2 separate regions of the Homo sapiens genome follow, and region 1 is linked to region 2. Evidence: fine-mapped expression QTL. Tissue or cell type: prefrontal cortex. Region 2 holds a variant in brackets; the other region holds the start of a gene. All regions are shown on one strand. Distances are from middle to middle. Region 1 holds the start of SH3PXD2A-AS1 (SH3PXD2A antisense RNA 1). Region 2 overlaps SH3PXD2A (SH3 and PX domains 2A).

Evidence for each region. PIP is the estimated chance that this variant, and not a neighbour inherited with it, causes the effect.
Region 1: SH3PXD2A-AS1 starts here. The variant in region 2 is the best candidate, but not a certain one, in a credible set for the expression of SH3PXD2A-AS1 in prefrontal cortex (GTEx, PIP 0.88).

What each region holds. Positions count from the first base shown.
Region 1 is chr10:103,743,781-103,749,154 of GRCh38, forward strand. SH3PXD2A-AS1 (SH3PXD2A antisense RNA 1) reads left to right here and starts at 2,999. Exons shown (of 3, transcript NR_038940.1): 1 at 2,999-3,316. All of the region lies in intron 3 of SH3PXD2A (SH3 and PX domains 2A), which reads right to left. RefSeq lists enhancers at 2,044-2,565, 2,982-3,482, 3,483-3,983.
Region 2 is chr10:103,798,664-103,804,037 of GRCh38, forward strand. SH3PXD2A (SH3 and PX domains 2A) reads right to left here. Exons shown (of 15, transcript NM_001394015.1): 2 at 2,619-2,699. Among named protein-coding and RNA genes, the nearest start is that of SH3PXD2A, 54 kb to the right of the region's middle. RefSeq lists enhancers at 1,608-2,109, 5,110-5,374 and a silencer at 2,339-2,418. The variant G/C (reference allele first, on the strand shown) is at 2,337.

The sequences.
Region 1 (5,374 bases), 55 kb before region 2:
TGCCTGAGATTGCAGAATCAGAATTTAGTTTCTTTAAGATTTTCGTCAAGATATATCAACTTTTTCCTGGAGAATGGTACAGTGAGCCTTATTAACCATTCACACCTGAGTATGAGCAGGCACCGGCTTCTCACTCAATAACAGGGTCTCGCTAGGGAAGAGAGCATAGAGCAGAGAGGCCTTGATGGAACTGGATGTAATGGGCAGGGGAGAAGAACGGCGGAACAGCCTCTACTGGCTCCCCTGTCTTCCTGAAAGCTGGCCCTGCTCTTGATGTTCAGCTGTTTCCTGACCATGGGGCCACCCAGCTTTCACCTGGGTTAGCCCTGCCTAGGCTAGGGTGGGAGTGGCTGAATGGCAGGCCCCTGCTTGTCTTTTTTTTTTTTTTTTGCGACAGAGTTTCGCTCTTGTTGCCCAGGCTGGAGTGCAATGGCATGATCTCGGCTCACCGCAACCTCCACCTCCCGGGTTCAAGCGATTCTCCTGCCTCAGCCTCCCTAGTAGCTGGGATTACAGGTATGTGCCACCACACCTGGCTAATTTTGTATTTTTAGTAGAGATGGGGTTTCTCCATGTTGGTCAGGCTGGTCTCGAACTCCCGACCTCAGGTGATCCGCCCGCCTCAGCCTCCCAAAGTGCTGGGATTACAGGCATGAGCCACCGCACCTGGCCCCTGCTTGTCTTTTTAAGTGCTGCCCCTGAAACTCACATGTCACCTCTGACCCTCTGCAGCCTGGGGACTGCAGGTCACCTCTTCCCCTGCTGGGCTGCCTCCAGCTTCTGGTGCAGCTGAGATGACATCCCCAGAGTCTACAGCCTTGTACCTGGCTCAGATCACACCCTGACACCCAATCCTTCCTTCTTCACTTGCAACATCTGGCTTTGTTGCCATTTACTTGGGCTGGGGGAAGGCAGGAGTGAGGCCTAGATGCTGAGGCTGGAAGCAGTGGGCACATGCAGGTTCCGGAAAGACACAATCCCCATAGCGAAGGTCAGCAGCCTGAGGCATACTGACACCATGCCCTGAGTTCTGGCTCCCATGAATCTCTCTTTAGAGCCAAGATGCTGCCTCTGGCTTGAAGTCTAGCATGGTAGACATTGGTAGGTTTTGTCTGCCAGCTTTTAATTATTACAGTGCCCGATTTTCTTTTGGGAAACAATCCCTCCTTCATTCTCAGTCCATGGGATTTCAGTGGGGTTGATCCCATCCCAAACTCTGGGGCTGATCATTAAGTACAGTCCAGCCATGGGCATGCAACCCACATTGGTCCAGTGGGAATCAGCCTGGGACTACTGCTGGAACTACCAGGAAGAGATGTGTTCTCTCTCTACAGCTGCTAACTCATAAATGCCAAGCCCCAAGCTGCTAGGAAGCATCTTTATGTATCTCTGTTACCACCTGGGGGAAGCCTATCAGAGAATTAAGTCAACAGAAAAGACAGCAAAGCTGAGGGCTTAAGAGACACAGATTTGGTCCCCTAGATCCAGCTATGCCTGAAACCATTACTCTTGGTTTTCAGTTATGTGAACCAATAAGTTTCCCCTTTTTTCTTAAGCCAGATTGAGATGGGTCTATTTCTTGTCACCAGGAGAGTCCTGACTGGTACATCTGGCTCTGCCAGTTACTGTTATGTGACAGGGGATGAGTCATAACCTATTCGAATGCTAGTTTCCTCAGACTACAAAATGGGAGGCAGTAATGTCTAATGCAAAGGACTATTACGAGGAGCCAGTGAATGAGTCTGTAAAAGCATTTAGCATGGAGCCCAGCCCATGGCAAATGGTGAACAAATGGGATCTCTTATGAGTTGACACTTCCAGGTCAAGGAGGTGGGATGGGGTGGGGTGGGCCCTGCCTGTCTCCTTGCTGGCCACGTGGAATCCAAGTACCAGAAGCATTTCCCAGGCACCCAGTCCATCCACCTGGCTTCCCACCAAGGCCAAACACGAGCTCCCCTCAGCCTGCGGCTGCCCTTCCTGATTCACCCAACCCATAAACACATCTGTGTCTCCCACACGGCTTCCGTTTCTCGGAGGCCCAACTCAGAGGGCAGAGGACGTGACACAATGGCAAGGAGGCCAATTGTTCATTCCACCCGCCCCCTAGGGGCATTCTAGGGTGACTCACACAGGTGTGTCTGCCCGCTCCAGCACTCCCCACTCCCTCTCCCACACGCCCAGGGAAACACACTTGCAAAAGCCCACTGGGGTTCACGACAGAGTGAAGCCTTCACCCTCCTGCAGCCACGGCTTGCTTGCAGAAAGCATCAGCGCACCTTGGAGGGAAGAACGATCTCCCAAATTCTGGTTCGGAGGTTCCCATACCCAGTAAGCAGAGCCAGGCTGAAGGGAACAGTATCTTTCTCTCCCTCACCCCAGGTGGGTCAACTGGGATTTTATGGGTGTCTGCTAGTGATAAAGCACCTAGTCCCAGGCCCATGGAGGGACTAATACATCTTTGCTGAACCAAATGGAATGGAAGTCTTTTTGAGCAGCATTCTAGAGCAGTGGGACCAGAACCATTTCTTTCTTTTTTATTTTTATTTATTTATTTATTGAGACAGGGTCTTGCTCTGTTGCCCAGCCTGGAGTGCAGGGGAGTGATCTCGGCTCACTGCAATCTCTGCCTCCCGGGTTCAAGTGATTCTCCCACTTCAGCCTCCGGAGTAGCTGGGATTACAGGCATGCGCCACCACACCAGGCTAATTTTTTGTATTTTTTTGTAGAAACTGGGTTTCACCATGTAGCCCAGGCTGGTTTTAAACTCCTGGGCTCAAGCGATCCTCCCAGAGTACTGGGATTACAGACGTGAGCCACTGCGCCTGGCCTCAGAATAATATTCTCAAACCATAACCCTTGCTTAACCCTTTCAGTGACTGCCCAGGGCACTGAGGATAAAATCCAAACTCCCTTCTGTGGCCGGGCAGGATTCAGCTCCTGCCTCTCTCTCCGCCCGCCCATCTCCTGTCACTCTGCCCACGCCACAGACACATCCTGCTCTTCCCCACCTCAGGCCTGTGTGTTCGCTGTCCCTGTTCCTGTTCCTGGAGCACTGTTCCTGCTGCCCTTTGCCCAGCCATTGCCTTGCATCCCTCATTGGGAGGCCTTTGGTGGCCATGTGCCCTCTCTCTCCGGCCTCCGTTGTTTCCCTCCCAGAATCTGCCACCATTGATAATGATCTTCTGAACCTGCCTCTTTACAGCGTTCCCTAAGGACAGAATGCAAGCTTCTTGCAGCCAGTGAAGCCCACGAACGTATCCTCAGGGCCCAGCACAAGGACGGGCACACAGGGACCCCGACCGCGACTTGCTGAAAGGTGAGTGAGTGTGAGTGTGTGTTCACACTGGCTTGCTCTAGGCTGTCTCTCATTTACACACCCCCAGACCCCTGGCAGACTAGCAAATACAGCTCACCCCACACATTAGGGACGGCAGCTTCAGCCAGAGCTGGGGAGAGGGGTGGATTCACCCTCCAGGACGCAGACACAGTGGGGCCAGAGTGTGGTTAGCTCAGAGGCCGGCATCAGGGCCAAGCTGTACCCCCTCCATGTGGGCGTGGGTGTGGTGGGCGTGGTGGGCAGTGGCTCTGTACCCTCCCTGTGGGAGCCGGGAATAAAGGGCCCCATTCAGCCTGTGCAGCCTCGGCTCCTCCCTCCAGGGGAGGCTGCCCTCAGGAAAGACGGTGGGACGCTGGGCAGAGCTTCCTGGCAGCCTCTCCCTGTGGCATGGTCCACAGTGTGGGGGGCTTGGCGAGGGGCACGAGGCCTCTGGAGCTCAGAGAAACACTGCAGAATGGCCCAGCCAGATGAGGAGGCTGTGGGGCAGGCAGATGGAAGTCCTGGGTCGCAGTGATGATGCTGAAAGACACCCACTCACTTCTGAGGCTCTGAGACAGAGGAAAAGCCGCAGGAAGCAGAGGCCTGTCGGTAAAGGGCCCAAAACCACAGGCCTGGCCAGGCCAGCCACAGGGGAGTTTGCCTGGCTCTCTTGGGATGGACACTGTCCACCAAAGCCTGCTTTCATTTTATTTATTTATTTATTTATTATTTTTGTAGAGATGAGGTCTCACTGTGTTGCCTAGGTTGGTCTTGAACTCCTGGGCTCAAGCAATCCACCCACTTCAGCCTCCCAAAGTGCTGAGATTACAGGTTTGAACCACCGCGCCTGTCCCAAAGCCTGCTTTCCTTGAGCTTTGGTTCTGTTGGCAAAACTGAGCCCAGACAGTCAACTCTCTTCATCAACCTCCCACCAGCATTTTCTGTGGTTCCACCCATCTCCTGCAAGGATGGTGACAGTAACATTAAGAGGACGTAACATTCATTGAGCACTTGGTATGTGCTAAGCCCTGTGCCGTGTACTTTATATTTATTATGACAGTTGATCCTCATAACAACCTCTGAGCTACATACTGGGTGCTGTTGTTATTCTCACTTTACAGATGAGTAAACTGAAGGTAAGAAAAGTTGAGTGCCCCGCCCAGGGTTGCAAAGCGAGGAAGTGGTGGAGCTGGGATTGGGTGTGCCACAGTCTCTTTCTTTGGGCAGACTGAACATGCCTAGGCTCCTAATGATTCTGCTATCTTCCTTCCTTTCCCTGAGCCCCGGGCTGTGCAACCTGTGGCCAGCTTTCCTGACGGGGTACATCTCAACCCTACCCCATCCCTGAAAGAAGGGGCAACACGCAACACCCATTCACTCCCTCCCAAATGCTGGCACTGTGCTGGGGGCTGGGCTGTGATGGTGACGGTCCCTGCCCTCGCAAAGGATACTGTGTATGGGCACTGCGCTGTGATGTGTTGGCTGTCATAGGCACACGCAGGAGGGAGACAGGGCTGAGGAAGTGGAGAGAGTGAGACAGGCAAAGGGAAGCGGGAAGAGTGTTCCAGGTAGAGGGAGAGTCTGAGCAGAGGCCCAGAGACTGAAGAGACAGGCACATCTGAGAAGCTGAAGGGAGTCCAGTGGGTACGTGCATCAGGACGCATGCTGGGAGGTCCCTGGGGTGGGGTTATGAAAGGTGCCAAAGAGACTGAATGGCCACACAGAGCACACTGAAGCCACTACAGTTGCATATTCAGAAATGCCTGAGTTCCTGGACCTCCAAGGCCAAGGACCATAATGTTCACGGTGAGAAGACACCAGAACCTTCAGACCCTGCCCGAAGCCCTTCTTCCTGAAGTCTTTCTTTCTTTCTTCTTTCTTTTTTTTTTTTGAGACAGAGTCTCGCTCTGTTACCTCCCAAGTAGCTGATATAACAGGCATGTGCCACCACACCTGGCTAATTTTTGTATTTTTAGTAGAGATGGGGTTTCACTATGTTAGCCTGGCTGGTTTCGAACTCCTGACCTCAGGTGATCCACCCGCCTTGGCCTCCCAAAG
Region 2 (5,374 bases):
TGGGACTCTCAGAGTCAGCCAAAAAGGAAAGGAGCAAAACATTTCTGAGAGCTGCCCCTGGGCCACACCCCAGCTCCCAGCGGGCTCCCACCCTGCCCCAGAGGACAGCTTCAGAGAGGAGCCTGAGGCCTACCTGGCTCTGAATACGCCGGCAGGGACTGGGCACAGGGAGCTCACCACAGAGTGACGCCAAGTGAGGGAAGCCACAAAGCAACATCAGTGAGTGGGTCTCCAGCCCCTAGACGCCCCCCAGCCATGCAGCCCAACATCCCTGCAACCTGCTAACACCAGGCAACTCACTAGGCAACTAAGTGTTGGGAGAAACGTGGATTCACTCATTCATTCCTCCTAACAACCCTACCGGGCAGGCAATTTGAACCTTCACACTACAGATGAGAAAAGCAAGCCTAGAGAAGTGAAGGAGCCTGTCCGGAGTTACGTGGTGACAGCCAGTAACCGGTCCCAGGGAATGTGCCCCCAGTGCCTAAACTCTAAGCTGCTCTCTTACACAATCTCTCAGGGACATGAGTTCTGAGGTGCACCAATGACCAGAGATGGAGTTAGCAACTCCCTTTGTTCTTCCTCTATAGGATCCGCCATACCAAAATCAGCGACCTGATAAATAAGCAAGGCTTTTCAAAATGAACGCCACTAAAACTCATCATGGCAGGTAAAATGGGTTCGTAAAGATGCTATGCTTGGCTCATAAGTTAATTTCCAAAGAACGATTCCAACCCCTTCCCAAACTGCATCTACAGGTCAGCAATGACCCACGTGGACAAGCCTGGCCAAGCTCATGGCCATTGCCAAGCTAGGGCCAGCACACTGCACTAGCTGCTCCCTGCTTGCGTATCCCCTTTCCACACACAGGGAATGAGCCCTCCAGGCAAGGGAGGTGGTGGTGGGGGAGCAGCATTCCTTTCTCCTGAGATTCTGCAATGCAGGAGTGGGTGGGGGACCATAAGGGAAGAGGGGGAAGAAAAGTTCTGATTTGGAAGTTTCCACTGGCTTTCAGGCCCCCTCCAGCTCATCAATGAGTCCTTTCAGGGTTCCCTCTCCCCAACTGAGTTATCACTTCCTGTCCAGCACACTGCACCCATTGATGGGGTATCAGCAAACCCCACCAGATTACACTGGAATTAAGGAGACTGGACATGAATTGAGGAGGGAAGAGGAAGAAGGCTGGAGAGTAGGGAGTGGCTTTCAATCCCATATTCAATGGGATATTCAATCCCACATTGTTGGATTAAGAAAGGATTTGTAATACAGGAAGCTAGGTCACCCTTGGCTTGTCTCATAGGTAGGGCAATGAGGACAATGAGATAGAATTAGGTATTGGGGGCAAGCACACGGTACCCAAGATGACCTCTCCAAGATGACTGACAACCAAAGGCCTGCCAAGAAAGGAGTGGACCCTGGCTGTGAGGGTAGAAGTGAGTGTCTCTTTGTGTTTTTATTGGCCTAAACCAGGCTCACAACCCCGAGAGGAATCTAGAACATCTTGGCTCTACCTGAAAGGGCTGCTGCTCAACTCACACTGATTCTCCCTTCTCTAGTACTTGCCTGTGATCCGCAGAGGTGGGCTCCCTAGTGGCCATGTCTGTGCTAAAAGACCCTCAACTCCCAGCCATACTGATTGGTCCAGAGAGGGCATCTGACCCAAGCCAGACCAATCAAAATCGTCCCTGGGATTTTTCAACTTGGAACTGGGAGTCAATTTCCCCTCTGTTGGGAGCCAAAAGATATAAAATTCTAGAGCTGCTGACAGCCATATTCCTCAGGGTGTGAGGTAACAGAAGCTGAGGGCAGTGCCAGAGGGAAGCAGAGACAAGACAGAGGGAGAGCAGATCCTGGTTTCAGGCATTCCTGAAGCCTCTGCCTCACTGCCCTTCTCACCATGTGGTCGGCTGCACAAGCTTCCCTGGTCCCTCCTTCCAATCACATCTCCTTTGTGTCTAAGCCAGTGCAATTGTAAAACTATCACTTGCAACCCAAAGAGGCCTGACTAACTTAGCTGGCATCAAGGGGGGTGTCTGCAGGGGTAGCTGTGGGACCCATACTACCATTCCCTTGTGAACATGCCTTTGTGTCTTAGAGACACACACCTACCACGTACATGTACAAACTGGGTGGCAAGTGCCTCATTCGGTCAGACAGACACCGTGGTATGTATGCCTAGTTTGTGCCTGTAGTTGAAAAAATTGCTTATTTTCTGTTTCGGTCTTCCCTGAGTGTTTGCTTTTCTTTGCCTGCAATGATGCAGTGGCTTCTGTCTCACCCTGGATGTTTATAGACACACGTCTGGTCAGGCACACAGCACCTCCCACCATCCTCCC[G/C]CCTCTTCACCACAGTTTCCTACCCTGCAGGCAAGGGAGGGTGACAAAGCGTTACTGTTAAGACCATCAGAGGAGGCCAACAAAGTCCTGAGTGTCTGCCTGCAGTATGCAAGATTGAGACGAGCCCAGCTCCACCTTCCAGCTTCCCTCCTCTGTCCCTCTGCTCCCACCTGGACTCTGACCCTGACAGCTCTCTTGGGGGCTCCCTGGATAAGCGAGGGTATGAGAGAGGCCAGCCCACCAGAGAGACTTGGGCCACTGTCCGAGCTCTGACAAACTCACCTGCAGGTCAAAGAACTTGCTGTACCTCCGGTAGATAGTCTGGGAGGTGGAGTCAGACCAGGTCACATTGATTATGTATACCTGTGGGAAAAAGGTAAGAGCAGGTGAGCAAGGCTGGATTTCAAGCTGTCTGTGCCAGGCATCATGTAACATGACTGCAGGTGTTCCATATGGCAGGACCACTCTTTTACTCATCTCATCTGTCCCTAGGGGCTAGCACAGTATCAGCTACCATGTAGATGCTACAATATATGTCTAAATACACACACACACACACACACACACATACCCCTAGAGGGATATTTCATCAAATGCCAACAATGATTATCTTAGGAAAGTAGGATCAGAATGAGTGGTTTTAATTTCCTTCTTTTTATTTGTATATATTTCATACAATAAACATAAAATTGAGGTCACTACATTTTTGTTTGTTTGTTTTTGAGACAGAGTCTCATTCTGTTGTCCAGGCTAGAGTGCAGTGGTGTGATCTCGGTTTACCGCAACCTCTGCCTCCCTGGTTCAAGCAATTCTCCTGGCTCAGCCTCCCGAGTAGCTGGGAATACAGGTGCCTGCCACCATGCCTGGCTAATTTTGGTATTTTTAGTAGAGACGGGGTTTCGCCATGTTGGCCAGGCTGGTCTCGAACTCCTGACCTCAGATGATCCACCTGCCTTGGCCTTCCAAAGTGCTGGGATTACAGGCATGAGCCACCACGCCTGGCCTTTTTAGATAGCTAATTTCCACTGGTTCACAAACTTTAGAGTGAATGAGACTCTATAAGAGGCCCTCCGAAATTGCAGGTGGACCCCGCTCTCTGAAATTCTGCAGACCTGGGTTTTGAGGGCTCGGATGTTTACACTTTTAACAAACCCCAGCTTGTTTTGCTACTGTGGATCCTCAGAACTCACTCTGAAATGCCTTTCAGGAGACCAGAAGTGCTCAGAGATGTGTGATTCATCTCAGCATCCCTGTCTTTGCTCAGTGCCTGGCACAGAGCAGGTGCTCAGAAAACACTTTGCTATGTTGAACAAACACACTGGTCTTCTGGATGAGAAACGGATTTGAAGAAGAGGCGTTAGCACGTGGGAGACTGGAAAAACTTTTCTCTTTGGGAGCCTCACAATGAAGGCATTTCAGGGCCAGGCTGTCACCCCGGTTCCCAAGTCTCCATCAGGCTCTGCCAGAGCTCATGCCACTCTGGAAGGCTGAATTGACTTAGGAATCCTTGGAGAAGGAGAGAAAGCCCCCAGTCCACACAATCTGGCCTGCTCTTCCCACTATTTCTGTCCTTCCTGGGAAAGGCCTGAGTTAGAGGAATGGGTGCCCTCCCACAGCCTCAGGGCTTTTCTGTTGAACTTCTCCCTGGGAAGGACACCTGCAGGGGTGTCTCCAGGAGGACAGTTAAGGGAGGGCACTGATAAGACACAGGTAAGACCTCTGCCCCCTTTCCTCCCTCAGGAGAGAGGCAATGGCTGTAGGTCCTCAATGGTGGTTCCCAGGCCAGGGTGCCCTTTAGGATCACCTGGGGCCGGGGGCAGGCTTCATAAAAATTCAGATTCCGGGGTCTCTGCCTAGTCACTGTGTCCTGTAGGTCTGTAGGGGTGGGGCTGGGGGGACTCTACCCTAAGAATAAAATAGCCAGTGAGGCCAGGGATCTGGGCCAAGATGAGGAGGAACGTTAGCAAAGAGAAGTGGCATTTAGACACCTTGCCATCAGACTGGCCCACCTCCCAGGTGCCTGGAACAGGGTTTGCCACAGGCGTGGTGAGGCTTTGTGCTTGGCTGCTCCGGTGATACACAGGAAAATGAGCTGAATCCAGTCTCTTCTCCCTTCCTATCTCTATGACACAGAGGCAGACTCATGCCATGGCGAGTTTTTTCTGAAACGCAACCAAGGAGAGGGCCATAAAGCCAAAGCAAACAGGTCTGAGTGCTGCCACCCAGAGATGGGGCATTTATGACATGTGGCCCTGATACAGAACATAAGGTAAAAGGCCACCCCTATCTTCATCAGCTCAAAATAGACTATTGGCTATTATTATAATAAATGGGGGTATGCTTTGCTTTACATCATATGTAAATAGGTATCACATGATACATTGTAAAACCATTTTGATAACTTAATGTTACCTAATGTTTAAGCAACTAAATGTAACTAGTTACCAGTACAGCATAAAGCATGTATATGCATTAGCTCATTTAATCTTCAGCCCAATAAGGTAGCTACCACTGTTATTCCCATATTGTACAAGAAGAAGGTGAGGCTCAGAGAAGCTAAGTAACTTGCCTGAAGTTACACAGCTAATAAATTACAGAGCAAAAGATTTGAACCCAGGTCTAGCTGAGTTCTAATACCTATGCTCTTAACTGAACTGGACTATCTCCCTGTACATAAATTTATCTAAACTGAACTACTTTGATCAGGACTGAATGACATTGTCTACCAAAAAGTATCTGAAACAAGTCTCAATCAGTTTAGAAAGTGTATTTTGCCAAGGTGAAGGACACACCTGCGACACAGCTTCGGGAGGTCCTGATGACATGTGCCCAAGGTGGATGGGGTACAGCCTGCGTTATACATTTTAGGGAAATACAATACATCAATCAATACATATAAGATTTACATTGGTTCCATCTGGAAGGGTGAGACAACTCTAAGTCGGGGACGAGGGGCTTCCAGGTCATAGGTGGATTTAAACATACTCTGATTGGCAATTGGTTGAAAGAGTTACTACCATTAGAAAGGAGTGTCTGGA